Linked DNA regions of Homo sapiens. The protein of the gene in region 1 interacts with the protein of each later gene in a pairwise test. Each region holds a gene or a part of one and is shown in the gene's direction. Other genes may lie near its edges.

Region 1 (3,500 bases):
AAACTTCCCTTCTGGTCCTTAGAAGTCAATTCTTCTCAAAGTCTCTGCAGATTTAGTTACCCACCAGAAAAGGAAAGGCTCCCATGGGGGCCTGAGTAATTTCTCACTGGTCAGAGAACCCTAAAAGTGTTAGGCTGCCTGAACAAAGGCAACAAGGCAATGCATGGCAGTCTCAGGGCTGTGTTCCTTTGATTCTTTCATTTGTGTGTGTGTGTGTGTGTGTGTGTGTGTGTGTGTGGTGTGTAAGAGGGAGGCAAGAAGCCAATAAAGATTTAAATGGATGGAGATAACTTGAGAGGTTTGGTTATCCCTCTTTCCCTTCCCTCATGTCTCATATTAGTTAGTCCTTTAGAGCTATAGTCACGAGCAATTTTAATCCTCAGGGTTCTATTTTATTTTATTTTGAGACGGAGTCTTGCTCTGTTGCCCAGGCTGGAGTGCAATGGAGCGATCTTGGCTTTTTGCAACCTCCGCCTCCCTGGTTCAAGTGATTCTCCTGCCTCAGCCTCCCCAGTAGCTGGGACTACAGGTGTGCACCACCACGCCCGGCTAATTTCTTGTATTTTTAATTGATACTAGGTTTCACCACGTTAGCCAGGATGATCTCGAACTCCCTCAGGGTTATTTCTACTGACTATATTAGCTATTCTGTTAGCTAAGAACTTTATCTGAATACTGAATGGTCAGTGTTTGTGAGGTTTGCATTAGAGCTAGGAGCACAAAGACACCTCTGCTCTAGTGTGGTCTGGGCAATGCAGAAAGAAAAGGAGGAACAGTGATCAGAAACAAAAGATGGTGGTCAGAGGTAGGGAACTGCAAGCCTGTCCGTTAGGGCAGAAAGAAGAACAGAAAAGGGATATCAGAGACCTGTGTGTGGCTCCGAGGTGCTGATCTCCATTTCTCTTAATAATACTTCTCTCCAGAGTCAACATACATGGGTCCTATACCTTCCTCAGTTTCCCACCCAGCCCCTAACTGCCCCTGTGCCATGTATGTTAGGTAGATGAGGCTTAAGAAGGAGATCATCCTCCACTCACAGTGGTGGGTACAGAAATGTGTTCCTGGCATCCACATAGAAGTCAGTGGACGGCCTGTTCTTTAAAAATGCAATGAATTGATAAGCTCTGCTGGCCTAGGTCTGGGAGTCTAAGCACCACAAATGAACGCTGTTATGAGCGTTCCCCTACAACTTTGGAACTGCTCAGTGCACCAAATGCTCTGCAAAAAGCGGGTCTTGCTTCAAAGTATTCAGAATTGCAATGCTGTGATTCTCTGCATCTTGGTTTGCGCTGCCTCACTAGGACTAGGGGTATGCTTTCCACTGGAGAGTGCCACCCATATCATTTTAGAGAGGGCTGAGGGAGAAGTCTACTATTGTTTTAGTGAAACACACTGCTAAGAAATAAGTAGTAGCCACCAATACTTCCAATGGTATAAATTCTCATAAATGGTATTTTTTTCAGTGCCTTTGTATGAAGCAAGATTCACAATGGGGCAGAGAATGAATCTCCCCACAAGCTACCTTGCAAGTAATGGGTGGGTGGAAGTTTCAGGAGCAGGGGTTCTTCTGTTTATTATACTCTGCTATTTGATAAATGCCCAGACATTTACCCATTAGTTACCACTAATGGCTTTTTCATAAAGACCTCAGTGATCGCCTCCTCCCAGACTGAGGGTTTCCCTGGGGGCAGGAGGTATCTAGCACAGTGTAAAGACTGGGTAACTAGGGATGATTCAGCCCAGAAACTCAAGAAGATAACTCATTCTGTTTTCACCTGTGTTGGGGGGAAGGCCATTGAAAATAATGGAAGCCCCTCTAAACTGACAGTGAATGATATTAGTAAAACCTGACAAATAATGGGCCAGTGAAAAGATGGAGAAGTTGTAGCTTAAGCTAAACAGCCCCTCCTTCTGGCTGGATACAGCAGCTAAAAACAGAGAGAACTGTGTGTTTTGCACAAGACCGCTTGCTAACTCAAGACATTTTGCTTCTTTCCGTGGTGAAAAGACAGGGAGGGCACCATCACAAAAATCTAAGATGAAAGAGAGTCGCTCTTTTGCTTGATTCTCACATCCATTCTTCCAGCCTGCAATGGGCAGGGCATATGGTCAGGTGGATCCAGGGGCCAGGCACTCGCACACACCACCAGGGCTGTGATGCATGGGCCCAGGTAGAGGTGCCGTGGGAGGGGTCATTGAGACAGAGAGTGTGAGCTGGGCAGAGGAAATCAGACTTGACTTTAGGGGTTACAGAGCAACCCAAGGAGACAAAATGCTGCTGAATTCCCAACAGCCTATCAGGGAGGGAATGTTTTCTGTGACTCATTTAAGTGGCCTCACTTGGTGGATTATATTCTGTCATTGGCCCCTCCAGCCCTTCCCCCTTTTAAGAAGAGGATGTTTGTAAATTAGAAGCAACAGGAACAAGAAAGTCATTTGAAGAGCCCGAGGAGGATTAAACATAAGTATTCGTTATGTAATATTTGTAATTCCCTGCAATCAGCCTGTTCCTTTCCCCATAGGGGGCAAGGAGATCAGGATCTGGTGAGGTGTGAATCTTGGGAGGTATGAGGAAGTTGGGCTGAGAAAGTGAACTTTCTCCTGGTCTTTCCTGAGGGTGTGCTCTTAGAGGTCTCCCCCCTTAAGGGGCAAGGGTTAGACAAATGACAATTTCTAAGAGGACCGAAAGGATTGTATACACCCTGCCTCGTGAACTAGACAGCAGATATCTTATTACTTGCACTTAACATGGGGCAGCCTAGCGATTGAGTAACTGGGTTGGGTTGGCAACAGCTACCCGGCTTCACTTATGAATAATAGTAATAATAATAACCGCAGCTAAAGCAACCCCATTATTAGTAGCTGCCATGTGTCAGACACTAGGTGTTTTACATAAACAATCTGAATTCATCCTCACATTTCCCTTTGCAATTGACATTGCGACTTCCACTTTCTAAATGAGGAAACAGATGAGCGGTCAAATAACTGGATATGATTCTAATTCATCCTCTGTCTGATTCAAAAATCTCTTTTTACTGTGCATTTAAGTCAAGCAGAAAATTGGGGAGGTGTGCTAGAACCTGAGAAAAGCAAAAATGAATTTGAATGTGTGGGGGGATTACTAATAGCAGACATGAAAGCTCCAACCTCTCCCCTGAAGAGGCAGGATAAACGTCATAATTTTTGCATTCACAGTTAAGTTGGACACATTCCTAAAAAACAGCCTGGGTTGGAAGGAAGTGGCCAGATTGGGAAGGGGCTGTTGGAGACGGTCAGGGAGAATGGTGGAAGCCATTGTCTGCCTCTCATTCCTTGCTTGCAGAGAGCAAGGCACCCTGATGTATATTAGATCACTCTAGATTTTTGGTTGCCTGATAAAGACAGTGAGAGGAGATAAAAGGCATGTGAAGTGTTGGAATTATAGTATCAGTGCTCTCTAATAAATACCTGATGTGGCATGAAAGTGCCTCAAGCACATTCAAAGCATCAATTAAATTAGG
Region 2 (3,500 bases), on another chromosome or scaffold:
GCATGGAAAAGCAATTTCCTGAAAACTATTGTAACTACAAAAAAAGTGAATACCCTTTCCCTGCGTCTGCCTGGTATCCTGTGCATATCTCTATCATAATGTTTATTACATAACATATTTATCAGTTTGACTCATCTGTCCCCTCCCCTCCCATAATTAAACTACACTTTTTCTTTTTGAGACCGGGTCTTGCTCTGTTGCCCAGGCTGGAGTGCAATGGTGCAGTCATAGCTCACTGTAGCCTCAAGTGATCCTCCCACCTCAGCCCCTCGAGTAGCTGGGACTACAGGTATGCACCACCACACCCAGCTAATTTTTTTTTTTTTTTTAACTCAGGGTCTCACTATGTTGCCCAGGCTGGTCTCGAACTCCTGGACTCAAGCGATCCCACTTTACCCTCCCAGAGTGCTGGGACAACAGGCATGAGCTACCAAGCCTGGCCTTTAGACCACACTTTTGAAAATAGAGATTGTGTCCTTCTTCACTGTAGTAGCCCAGTATCAAGTACATAGTAGGTATACAAAAACATTTGTTCAAAGAAAAAGGAAGCAGGCAGGGAGATAAAAATCCCCCTGGAGTAAATAACATTGTTAAGTGTTTGCCTTAGCCTTATGTTGGTGGAGCAGTTTTTCTGTTTACCATTTATTTTATTAAGTTTGTTATAACTTAAGCTGTTGATTTTAGGGCATGGCCATTATGTTTATTATATATTATTACAGATAGACTATTTGTCTGGGTTTATATTATCAATAAAAGGATTATAATTGCCAAGATAATATATTGTCCTTAATAAGAAATCTCCTTTTATTTATTAAAGCATGGAAAGAGAAGTTTAGAGGTCATGGTTAGTAGAAAGAAGGAAGTGTGTGTCAATAGATAATTTTCTATTGACACACACTTGTTGATAATTAAAATAGATCATTTCAATTAAAATAATTTTCTATTGACACACACTTGTTGCTACATTCTTTTTTAATCTTTCTCTGTCTGCTGGGACTACTAAAGAAACTTGAACTCCAAGCATTTGGCCTCACATTTCAGAAGATTATCCTTGAAGATACAACCAATAAAGTCCTAAAGTCTCAGACAATGAAAACTATACTGAACTTGTGGTCCAGTTAAAGTGAGCACTATGGTAAGGTAGTAGAATATAGTGAAATGAGAGTGGAATTTATAATTAAAAGATTTAGGTTGAGATCACCCTACCATCACTTAAGAGATTTGTATGAAGGATGGTCCAAGAACATTTAGAACTCTGACTTACTGCCCCAAGTGTAGTCTGTTTCTCCTCCAGAGATAGAGTCCCCAAGCAGATTGTTAGTTGATATTTTCTCCATAGTGCCCAGATCCCAAAAGGTAATTCACTTCATAAAAAGTTTCTTCCTCTAAACTTATCAATAGTGATCTTAAAGTTGTGGTAATAATAATGGCTACTGCTTGTTGAATACTTCCTAAGTGTCAAGCCCTTTACATATTTTCTCGTTTTATCTCCACAACAACTGAGTGAAATAAATACTGTTCTTTTCCCCATTTTACTGATAAGAAAATTTAGTGGTAGATTTGGAATCTAACACCAAAAATGCAAGCTTTTAGCCACTGCTTAGCTGTTAATCACAGTGAAGAACTGAGAACTTTATCATCTAGTTTTCTTCTGCTTCCATTTCCCATTTTTAAATGAAAACGATGTTACCCTCCAAAGACTTATATGAGAAAAACTTAATTGTGAATAATTTTAAGATGTCCAAGTAAAAGAGCTGGGAAAAAAAAAAAAAACCTAAAAAGTGGGAGGGTTTTTGTTCTGTTTTCATGTATTTCAGGCCTAGATGAAATTTAATTAACTTAATACCCATTATGAAATTGTTTTTCTCTCCAATTTTCCTGAACATAAATGTTTTGGTGCTTCCAGACATGGGCCATGTTCAGCCCATTCTTCTGCTTTCCTGAATTCTCTAACGTCATGGTTGGAAAAGGTCTGATTTTTTTTTTAAAAAGAAAATACTTGAGGAAAGCAGTTGACAACTGCTTGGGCAGGAGATGGTTCTGTACTGTATCCCAGGATCCTGTCTGCTGTTTCAGTTTGTCTTATGTGAGAGGCAGTCTTTTTTTTTTCTTTTCCCCAAAAAAACAACACACTCAACTCATCCAGCAACTATTTAACAAATGTTTTTTGAGTACCTGTTATATACACTAAGTGTCTTCCATATTAGCTTATTTACTCATCACACTAACCTGAGGAGGTACTCTTATTAGCCCTATGTTTCAATGGGTAGACTGAGGCACAGTTGAATAATAAGGTACTTTCTCAAGATCACACAGCTAGTAAGTGGCAGAGCCATCTGTGAACCTATTATGCTATACTGTTTTCATAAAACCAAAATCTCATGAAGACACACAACTGAATAGAATAATTACAAGTGTGATAAATGTTGTTTTAAAAGGGTAAAGGGCTATTGCAGCATTATTTTAGACTGAGAGGTCCAAATTTAAAATTATTGCTGTTGCTCTCACCTATTTTTTTCCTCTTGTATGGCCTGAAACATTTGAATGCAGGAAAACTACAGAAAATCCTTAAAATATTTAGGAAATAAGACATTTATGCTTATTTACTTTCCTTATTCTTTTTGAGCTAAGCAAAGAATAACTGTTATTGCAAATCTTTCTTAGAAGTATTAGTCCATTTGTTTTCCTTAGTATTTCACAGTAAACACATTTTAAGCTTTGTAATTCAAACCACATAGTGCTTCATCAGTATCAGTTCTTTTGGTCTAGCATTTATAACTATAGATGGATTTTAATAGGGAGGAAAAGTTACAGTCTTCACTCATGGTTTTTAACTTGATACCATCTGGCCTGTAGCTACTCTAGCCCCAAGAATAATTTCTTCTCTAGAGATTTAAGGATAAGGGCATTCGAACAACTAAGCCGTGCCTAATTAAAATACTAATTTGAAAGGCAGGCTATAATGTGTGTGTGCTTGTTTGCTTTGAAATCTTCTGCCTTAAATGAATTGCAAGTTTTGATCTCTAATGAAACACTATCATTTTTTAACATACGTTTATCGAGACGCTACCATGTGGTAAACTCTGCCTCTTTCTCACTTCTAGCTTTTTTAATCTATCTCTCTTTGTAGGATTCTGTCTTCATTTTTGTTTCTCCCATTTTTACTCCTTCTATTTCTCTTATTTTCCTTCGCTTCTGCTATGTCCTTCCCTTCTTTGTCTTTTTCTCCTAAAATTCCAGTCATTTGAAAAACTTAGTTATAGTAAAAATTTGATTAATTGAAGAGGAATTTATATTCACTTACTCTACCTGCCCTTTTGCTTATTTTCACCAGGAGTTTTTGTTTATCAGGCCTTATAAAGGCCTTGCTTCAAAATAAGCAAAAGGGAGAAACTGAGAAGCTGGGAAATGTACCCTTATTTGAATAGCTGGAAGAAAGATCAAATGCATTATTTAATTTATGCAAGTCTTCCTCCTCAAATAAATAGTTGGCTGACATA
Region 3 (4,208 bases), on another chromosome or scaffold:
GGTCATTCTCCACTTGGAATGGGTTTGCTCTAGGTGTTGGCAGCTGAACATACATGTCTTGCTCTAGGCAGTTGCTTAGCAGTTTGGTTTTCTTTTGCTTTTGGGAATTCAGGAAACAGAGGTGGGTGGTCAGTGGGAGAAGGTTGATTGTCTAGAGACCAAAATGAATTAAATACTTTATTACCTTTCCAGTAAAGGGGCTGTGAGTCTAACTGTATGTGTGGTTCCCTCCACCACACCCTAAATCAAAAGTTCCATCCCTGGAGTCTCTTTAATTCTAGAGACACTGAGATTTAGCTCATACAGAAGGAGAAAATGACCTTCAACTGGATAAGCTTTCCTTGAGTACCCATTAGATACAAAACACTGCTGGATGTTGCAGTGAGAACAAACAAACAAAAAGCACAGGGAATACTCATATGTGAGTGAAGAGATAAATCTATAAATATATAAGTTCCGCAAGTGATTGGCAAATAAAATTCTGAGAGGGCAAAGAGAGGGGAAAGATTTCTGCCTCGAGTCAGAGGACTGGGGTAGCGGAAAAAAGCTTTAGAAAAAAAGGTGGTATTTGTAGAGTCTGGAGAGGCGGGTTCCTCTGCCCCAAACTGGTGTCTACTGCAGATATGGTAAATAATTAAAATCATGAAATAAGAACATCACTAAAACCATTAATTTGACTTACTCTTAAAACACACGCGCGCACGCGAGCGCGCTCGCACACACACACACTGGCGTGCGCGCGCTTTTTTAAGGGGCCTATAGACTCCATTTCGGCTGCAGGTTAAAGTCATCCCAGGAAGGAGAAAGGAAAATTGAATTCCACCTTCTTCTGATTTAGAAAGCTAGATTGGTTGAGGATCGGGATCAGGGACCACAACTCAACCCCGAAACTTTGGGCTTCCAGAACTGCAGGGGAAACTGATTCTGAGATCAGACAACGGACCCTGGGGCGGGAGGGGGGTACCTTATTCATAACCCTCCCTCACAATAGCGGAGCACAGTACTCAGCACCCAGTAAACACTCATTTGTCGAATTGATTTTAAGCCTCCGCTTTTCCCCCAAGGAGGGCAATCAATCCCTTGCACGTTTTGCTCCTTTCACCAGCTTAATTCAGCTCTGATCTCAGTAGTTAGAAAAATAGGAGAAAGAATGGGGCCATAGCCTGCTGCAAGTAGAGCTGTGTAAGGGGGTGCGAGGAAGGCAGGCGAGAGCAGCAGAGGGAGTTAATACTCCTACCTCAGCTGGTCTCCGGCAGCCAACGCTCAGCCCCCGCCTCCTCTCTCCATTCCGGACCCCGCAACCGCGAGGCGAGAGAGCAGCGCCGGCGAGGCACTGGCTGGGCTCTGACTGTCACGTTAATTCCCTGCTGCTTTTTCTAGTCCCCAGCCGCCTCGCCCCTCCTCCCTCATTCCCAGCCTGGGTTTGGAGGCGATTTCCCTCTATTGACTGAGCCGACTGCATCTCTGGGCAAGCGGCGCTTTGCCTCTCTCCTGTCTTTGTCTGCTCTTCCTGCAAGGCTACGGCGCCTGGAGCAGGGTCTGCAGCGGCCGCCGCAGCAACGCGAGCCAAGTCGTGCCCCGCACGGCCGCCCGGGGCCGCACCCTCGCTCGGTGGCGGCGCCCGAAGACGCCAGCCGCGCCACGCACTGCCTGCGTCCCGCGCCCCAGCCGCCGCGCACCAACGCCGCCGCCTTCGCCGGGAGCCAAGCCCGCCGGGCCGGCCCGGTCCCAGGTGGGCAGCTCGGCTTGCAGCTGGTTGGAGGTGGCGGCCGCTGCAGCCCTGGCAGCGGGCACACCCCTAAGCATACGCACCCAACGCCTCCTCCCTGAGCCACGAGGATGGAGCAGCCACCCCGGCCCGGGACTGGCGCAAGGTAAGGTGCAGCCGCCTGTTGCTTTTCGCAGAGCGCGGGATCATCCCTCTGCCCGGGTACCTAGGCCGTCCCTCCAAGGAACAAGTAGAGGAGAACTATTACACCAGTTCTAAGCCGTGCCTGTCTAAGCCTCCCTGATCCCTTTTGCGCAGACCCTGGGAGAGACCTCCTCCTGGAGAGAGAGAGTCGACCCTCTTCGCTCCTGTTCAGCCGGCTGCTATACAATAGTCTGCAAACTTTTGTGACCCCTTCCCTGCGCGGTGCTCACCCCGTGCTGTGCAACTTGCAGGTTTAGTTCTTGCCCTTCCCCCAGCCCCTCTTGCCATATGCATCTGCCCATTTCTCTCTGTGTGTTCTTGCCAGTCGACTTTTCACTCCCCGCAGCTCTGGCTCCTGAGGCGAGGGTTTGGGACCCAGCAGTGCTCGTCCTGCCTCTAGGAGCTGGGTAGGGACAGAGAAGGTGAAATAAGAGAGGTGGGACATGGAGGATGGCTGCGGCCACCCCTGAAGCTTCGTCCAGCGCGATGGGAGTCAGTCCATCCTTGCACACGCCACCCCCAACTCGGCAATGAAACCTTTGGAGTGGCTTGCGGCTGTGCGCCGTGGGAACTGCAAGTGCAGATATGGGTGGGTGAAGTAAGTGGCTCAGGGAGGGAAAGGCTGCTCGTGCGGTGGAGGAGGAAGCTGAGGGTCGGGTAGATCTGCCCACGGTTGAGGGAAATGAAAAGGTACTGCTAATGTGGGCGAGCGGCCAGCCCTGAGAGGCCATCTGACGAAGAGGAAAAGGGATTTGAGTCCGGAGGGCGCTGGCCTGGGTATGTAAATACAGATGGGGGAGGGGCTGGGTACCTGGGGGCGCGTGGAGACAAGGAATGGAGCCCCGGAATGCCGGGCCCTTGGGTACTTGGGAAGGCAGGCTGCTGAGTGCCTGGGATGGGGCGATCTTCCTCCCCAGAAGCAAACAAACCTCCCCGCGAGAATCTGAATGCGTTGGCATCTTGGGTGGTGACTGAATGGTCAGATCGTGGACTAGGGATGCTTCTCCAAGCTCTAAGAGGACCATAGTCTGCTCTCTTCTCTGGCACCCGCTTGCTTCTACGCTCCTTCACCTCTGCAGCCAGGTCGGTAGACCCACGCCCACCTTCCCTGCCAGGCACTCAGGAGTCAAGGATGTTTCCACAGCCGCAGTGTAGGAAGGGGACTCCTGCCTCCCAGGGGGAGACGTGTGTGCGGGGTAGAGGGGAGTCCCCAGCGCGCGGCGAGTAAACAGGGGTCCAAAGTGGTTGGAGGAGAGCGCAGGAGCGGAGGCTGCGGTGGGAGCCACTTTCCCCCGCCCCTCCACAAATCGCACCTGGGCGGAGCGAGGGAGTGGGGGGAGCCCTGTGCTGCGCCCGGGAGGCTGGGGAGCGCAGAGCTGGAGGGCGTGCAGGGAAACGCAGAGCTAGGAGGTGTGGGCCTCGGGTGAGGGGAGACCCAGCTCTTAGACCTGGGAGCCCAGACAGAGGTGGATCTGCCCACCTTGCAGCTCCCAGGTAGATTCTTCTTGTGGCTCCAGATGCTCTGGCGAATGCAGGAGGGGGAGGCTCTTTTCTCCTTTGCACCCCAGCAATCTGGAGTGCAAGACCGTTTGCGGGAGGGGGCTTAGTCGGCTGTTTCGAAGAGGCAGCCTCCCCTCCCTTTTATCCATCAAGCCCCCTATTTCCTGGTGGGGGCACAGTGACTGCCAAGGCCAGTAAGCACCTCACTTAACCCTTCTCTCCCTGAGGAGGTGCATGCTCCTCTCCCAGAGGTGCCTTTGGCTGAGAGTGGATCCCTGGTTCCTAGTAGCCCTATAGGGAAACATTTGGAGGTTGGGTGGGTTTGGAACCCTGTACAACCTTTAGGTCCTCCCTGTTCAGACCTTCCACGTGCAGGCTTTTCTTACTTTCTCCGCGGGTGCCCTACAGAGGACTCCTGCTGCCTTGTACCAGTTGGGAAAAAGCAAAATTCAGAGCAGTTCCTTTTTCTGGGTCCCTCGCCTTGGCCACATCGGAGGAAACGTCGACTCGCCAGGGCTCCCGGGAGAAATCCCGAGGTCAGTCCCTCCCATTCTGGGGCACCCCTGGAGCAGCTAGCTCCCTGCCTAGCGGTGGCAAACTCCAGAGCCCCAAGGAGCAGAACGGGGATTCCCTGTGCGCAGGCTCCTGGTGCAGCTCCTGAGCACAAAGGCCACACCCTCACAGACCAGGCCTGGTGAGAGAGCCGGGCTTCTTCAGAAGTACCTGGATACCTGAGGTAGGATCCTAGACTTGAAACTCGCACTCCACGAGATTTAGCTCTGACCCCCCCAAGGCT
Region 4 (3,500 bases), on another chromosome or scaffold:
TTAAGATGAGGTTGTACTAGAGCAGAGTGGGCCTTTAATCCAATATAACTGGTGCCCTCATAAGAAGAGGAATATTTGGGCATGCTTGTGCGCACACACACACACACACACACACACACAAACACAGATGGAAAGTGGGGCGCGGAATGCCAGGTGAAGACACAGAGAAACAGACATAGGGAGAAGACAGCCATGTGAAAATGGAGACAAAAATTGGAGTTATGCTACCAGAATCCAAGGAATTTCTGAGCCTACCAGAAGCTGAGAAGCTGTAAGAGACAAGGAAGGATCCTCCCCAAGAACCTTCAGTGAGAGCATGGCTCGGCCAACACATTGTTTTCAGACTTCTAGCCTCCAAAACTGCGAGACAATACATTTCTGTTGTTTTCGTCACCCAGTTTGTGGTACTTTGTTATGGTGGTCCTAGGAAACTAATAAGTACATAAGCTTAGTTTATCTAAAAGGTGAGAGCATCAAATTTAGCCTATTTTTCATTAAATACTTCAATAGGAAATTGAGCCTATTTTTTTCATTACCTGTAAAAATAGTCTAGGTGACCCTTGCAAGACTACTGTTGTAATAAATAAAATCTTCATGCCCCTCACTCTCCACCCTCTCTCAGCTAACATTGCAGAGTAATGGATAAATGAAATTTGCATTTCTCCTTGTCAGGTGTCAGTTCTGAAAGGTGTTTTTTATTTAAGTTTCCAAAATGCCACCACTTGTGTAAATCTAAAGTTATTTTGAAATAAAAAGATTTTTAAAAATCCAACAATGTTGGAACGTAAATATAGATGTATTTTCTCTAGCATACTTGGAACTATTTAGCGAGATCCCTAACTTGAGTTTATAGCTCTAGAATTACTAGGCAAAATGGAAACTTATACTCCATGATGTCTAACAGATAGGGAAACAAATCCAGAAAAATAAGCAGTTGAGATTGCTCATATAGAAGACTAGTTCTGACAGAGTAGTACTTATCAAAATCAAAGTATTTAAATAGTCAAAATATACCTTGTACAAATTAAACCTCCCTGGGCCTTGGTTTACTTATCTGTATAATGCAATAGTTGGATCAGATGATCTCTGTAGTTCTTTCTTCCATGAATCTTTTATGATTCCAGAATTTGGGGTCATAAAAGAGATACAATAAAGCTATGTAATTCACAAAGTAAGTAATATTCTATGTTAATTGGCTTTTTACTAGTTTACAATGTAGCAATACTGTAATACATACGGTAGATTGGCTTTGTCTCTTTGATAACCTTATTTGCTGAAAGAGCAGAGAGACATGGGAGAGAATGCTTGAGGTAAGAGTGGTGCATGAGGTGGGTACAGTGGTGTGTGCCTATAATACTAGCTACTAGGGAGGCTGAGGTGGGAAGATCACTTGAGCCCAGGAGTTCAAGGCCAGCCTGGGCAATATAGCAAGACCCCATTTCCTAAAGAGAGAGGGGTCGGGGTATGTGGATATGTGTATAGAAAACAATGAGCTTCAATTCCTTTCTTACAGCAAATATAAAAATTAGAGAGGTATCATAGTCTTAAGTGTAAAAGCTAAACCCATAAAGTTTTAGGAAAGAAATATAGGAGACTATTTGCATGATTCAGGAGTAGGCAAACGTTTCTTAGACATAATTCAGAAAACAATCACCATAAAAGGAAACATTGAATAAATCAGACTGCATCAAAATTAAAAACTTCAGCTCATTAACAAAAATCATTAGGATAATGAATAGGCAAGCCAAAATCTGGTAGAAAACATTTATAAAACCTGTACAGTCAGTACAATCAGTTTGAGAAAGTTCTCATGGTTTCTTAGACAGCTAAACACACATCTGTCTACCCTACGACCCAGCAATTCTATTATTAGACATTTAGCCAAAAATTAAGATATATATTCACAAAATGACTTGTATAAGAATGTTCATGGCAGCTTTATTTATAGTATCTCACAACTGGAACAGCCTAGATATCCATCAGTAGGAGGATGAGTAAACAAATTGTGGAGTATACCTAGTAATAATAAAAAAATGATAGTTGCATATAACAGTATGGGTGAATTTCTAAAACATTATTCTAAGTAAACAAATCTTTACACAAGAGATTACCTAGTGTGTGTTTCAATTTATATGTAGTTCTAGAATAGTCAGAGCTAATCTATGGTGGAAAAGAAAATCAGGATGCTTGTTGCCTCTGGAGGATGAGGAAGGAGTTAATTAGGAAGAGGCTCAAGGGAACTTTCTGGGGTATAGTAATATTCTATATCTTGACTAACATTTAGTTACATATATGAGTTTGCCTTTGTCAAAACTAAGCAAATGTACATTTAAGATCTTTGTGCAATTCTTTGTGTGAAAATTTTATTTCAAAGAAAAAACTAATATTAAACTCCAGTTAACGATATGCTTGCTGAAAAATTTTTGAGGAAGTGTACTGACATTTGCAAATTATATTGAAATGCATAAAAATAAGATGGATTAATGAATTGATAGAGGAATGGATAGATGAATTTTAAAATATTAATGGTAGTATTTAGATGGTGGTAATACAGGCTGTTCGTTGTCAAATTCTTTTAACTTTTTTCATGTTTGAAAAGGACATTTCAAACATGCAGAGCAAGATCATTAATAATTTTCTCTGCACTAAGCATTTCTTTATGTTTCTAGAGTTGTTTTTCAAATATAAACTTTTAAGTTAGATATTCATTTCCTTTTCCTCAGTAGTAATACTCCTTAGGTTTGTGTGTTTTCTCTAGAATTGCAGATGAGAAGATCAAGCCTACCAGCCACTGATGCAGCCCTAATTTTTGTGCTGACCATAGGAGTCATTATCTGTGTATTTATAATTTTCTTATTGATCTTCATAATCATAAATTGGTAGGTGAATAGTGGAATGCATCATCACCCTTGATTGACATCCTCTTCTTCCCCCTCCTCATCCAGTGAATTGCAAAGCCCTGTCCGTGATGTCTCCTACATGTTGCCTTGAAACTGTCCATCGCCTTTCATTACTCCTGTGACTGCCCTAGTTCAGGCTGCCCCGTCTCTTTATGTAGATGCTTTTTAAAACAATCTCATGACTTGCTTCTCCAACTATGAGAGAGCTTTTAAATGCAACTTTTACAATTTTACACGGTAATTGCTTTAAAAAGTTTTATTTAATGAATATTTGTGTTGTCCAGTTGTGGTTCTCTCAACTCTAAAACTTGGTTATTGTAACCTACTAATTCATTTGTATGACAATATTTATAATACCTACATGAGTAGTACACCCTGGTAAGTCTGAGGGCTCATATACTATCGATTTGTAGCTGATGCATCGCAAACTAAAAATGAATAATGAATACAAAGGCACTTCTTAGAGAAGAGGTAATATATATGTTTTATATATATGTACATATATATGTACATATATTGTATATACAATATACATATATCTTCTATGTACATATAATGTATATACAATATACATATATCATATATAGGTCATATGTGTGT

Evidence for each region.
Region 2: the proteins of EMP1 (region 1) and STOM interact in binary tests that used the Homo sapiens proteins (3 or more experiments, as listed by UniProt).
Region 3: the proteins of EMP1 (region 1) and LRRC3B interact in binary tests that used the Homo sapiens proteins (3 or more experiments, as listed by UniProt).
Region 4: the proteins of EMP1 (region 1) and SPACA1 interact in binary tests that used the Homo sapiens proteins (3 or more experiments, as listed by UniProt).

Annotation. Positions count from the first base shown.
Region 1 is NC_000012.12:13,206,726-13,210,225, forward strand, and holds part of EMP1 (epithelial membrane protein 1), read left to right. Parts: intron 1-3,500.
Region 2 is NC_000009.12:121,363,751-121,367,250, reverse strand, and holds part of STOM (stomatin), read left to right. Parts: intron 1-1,005; exon of another isoform or gene 1,006-1,135; intron 1,136-3,500. UniProt on the Homo sapiens protein: Regulates ion channel activity and transmembrane ion transport. Regulates ASIC2 and ASIC3 channel activity.
Region 3 is NC_000003.12:26,621,364-26,625,571, forward strand, and holds the start of LRRC3B (leucine-rich repeat-containing protein 3B precursor), read left to right. Parts: upstream 1-1,408; 5' UTR 1,409-1,874; intron 1,875-2,235; exon of another isoform or gene 2,236-2,689; intron 2,690-2,717; exon of another isoform or gene 2,718-2,995; intron 2,996-3,282; exon of another isoform or gene 3,283-4,148; intron 4,149-4,208.
Region 4 is NC_000006.12:88,061,341-88,064,840, forward strand, and holds part of SPACA1 (sperm acrosome membrane-associated protein 1 precursor), read left to right. Parts: intron 1-2,739; coding exon of another isoform or gene 2,740-2,758; coding exon 2,759-2,879; intron 2,880-3,500. UniProt on the Homo sapiens protein: Plays a role in acrosome formation and establishment of normal sperm morphology during spermatogenesis. Important for male fertility.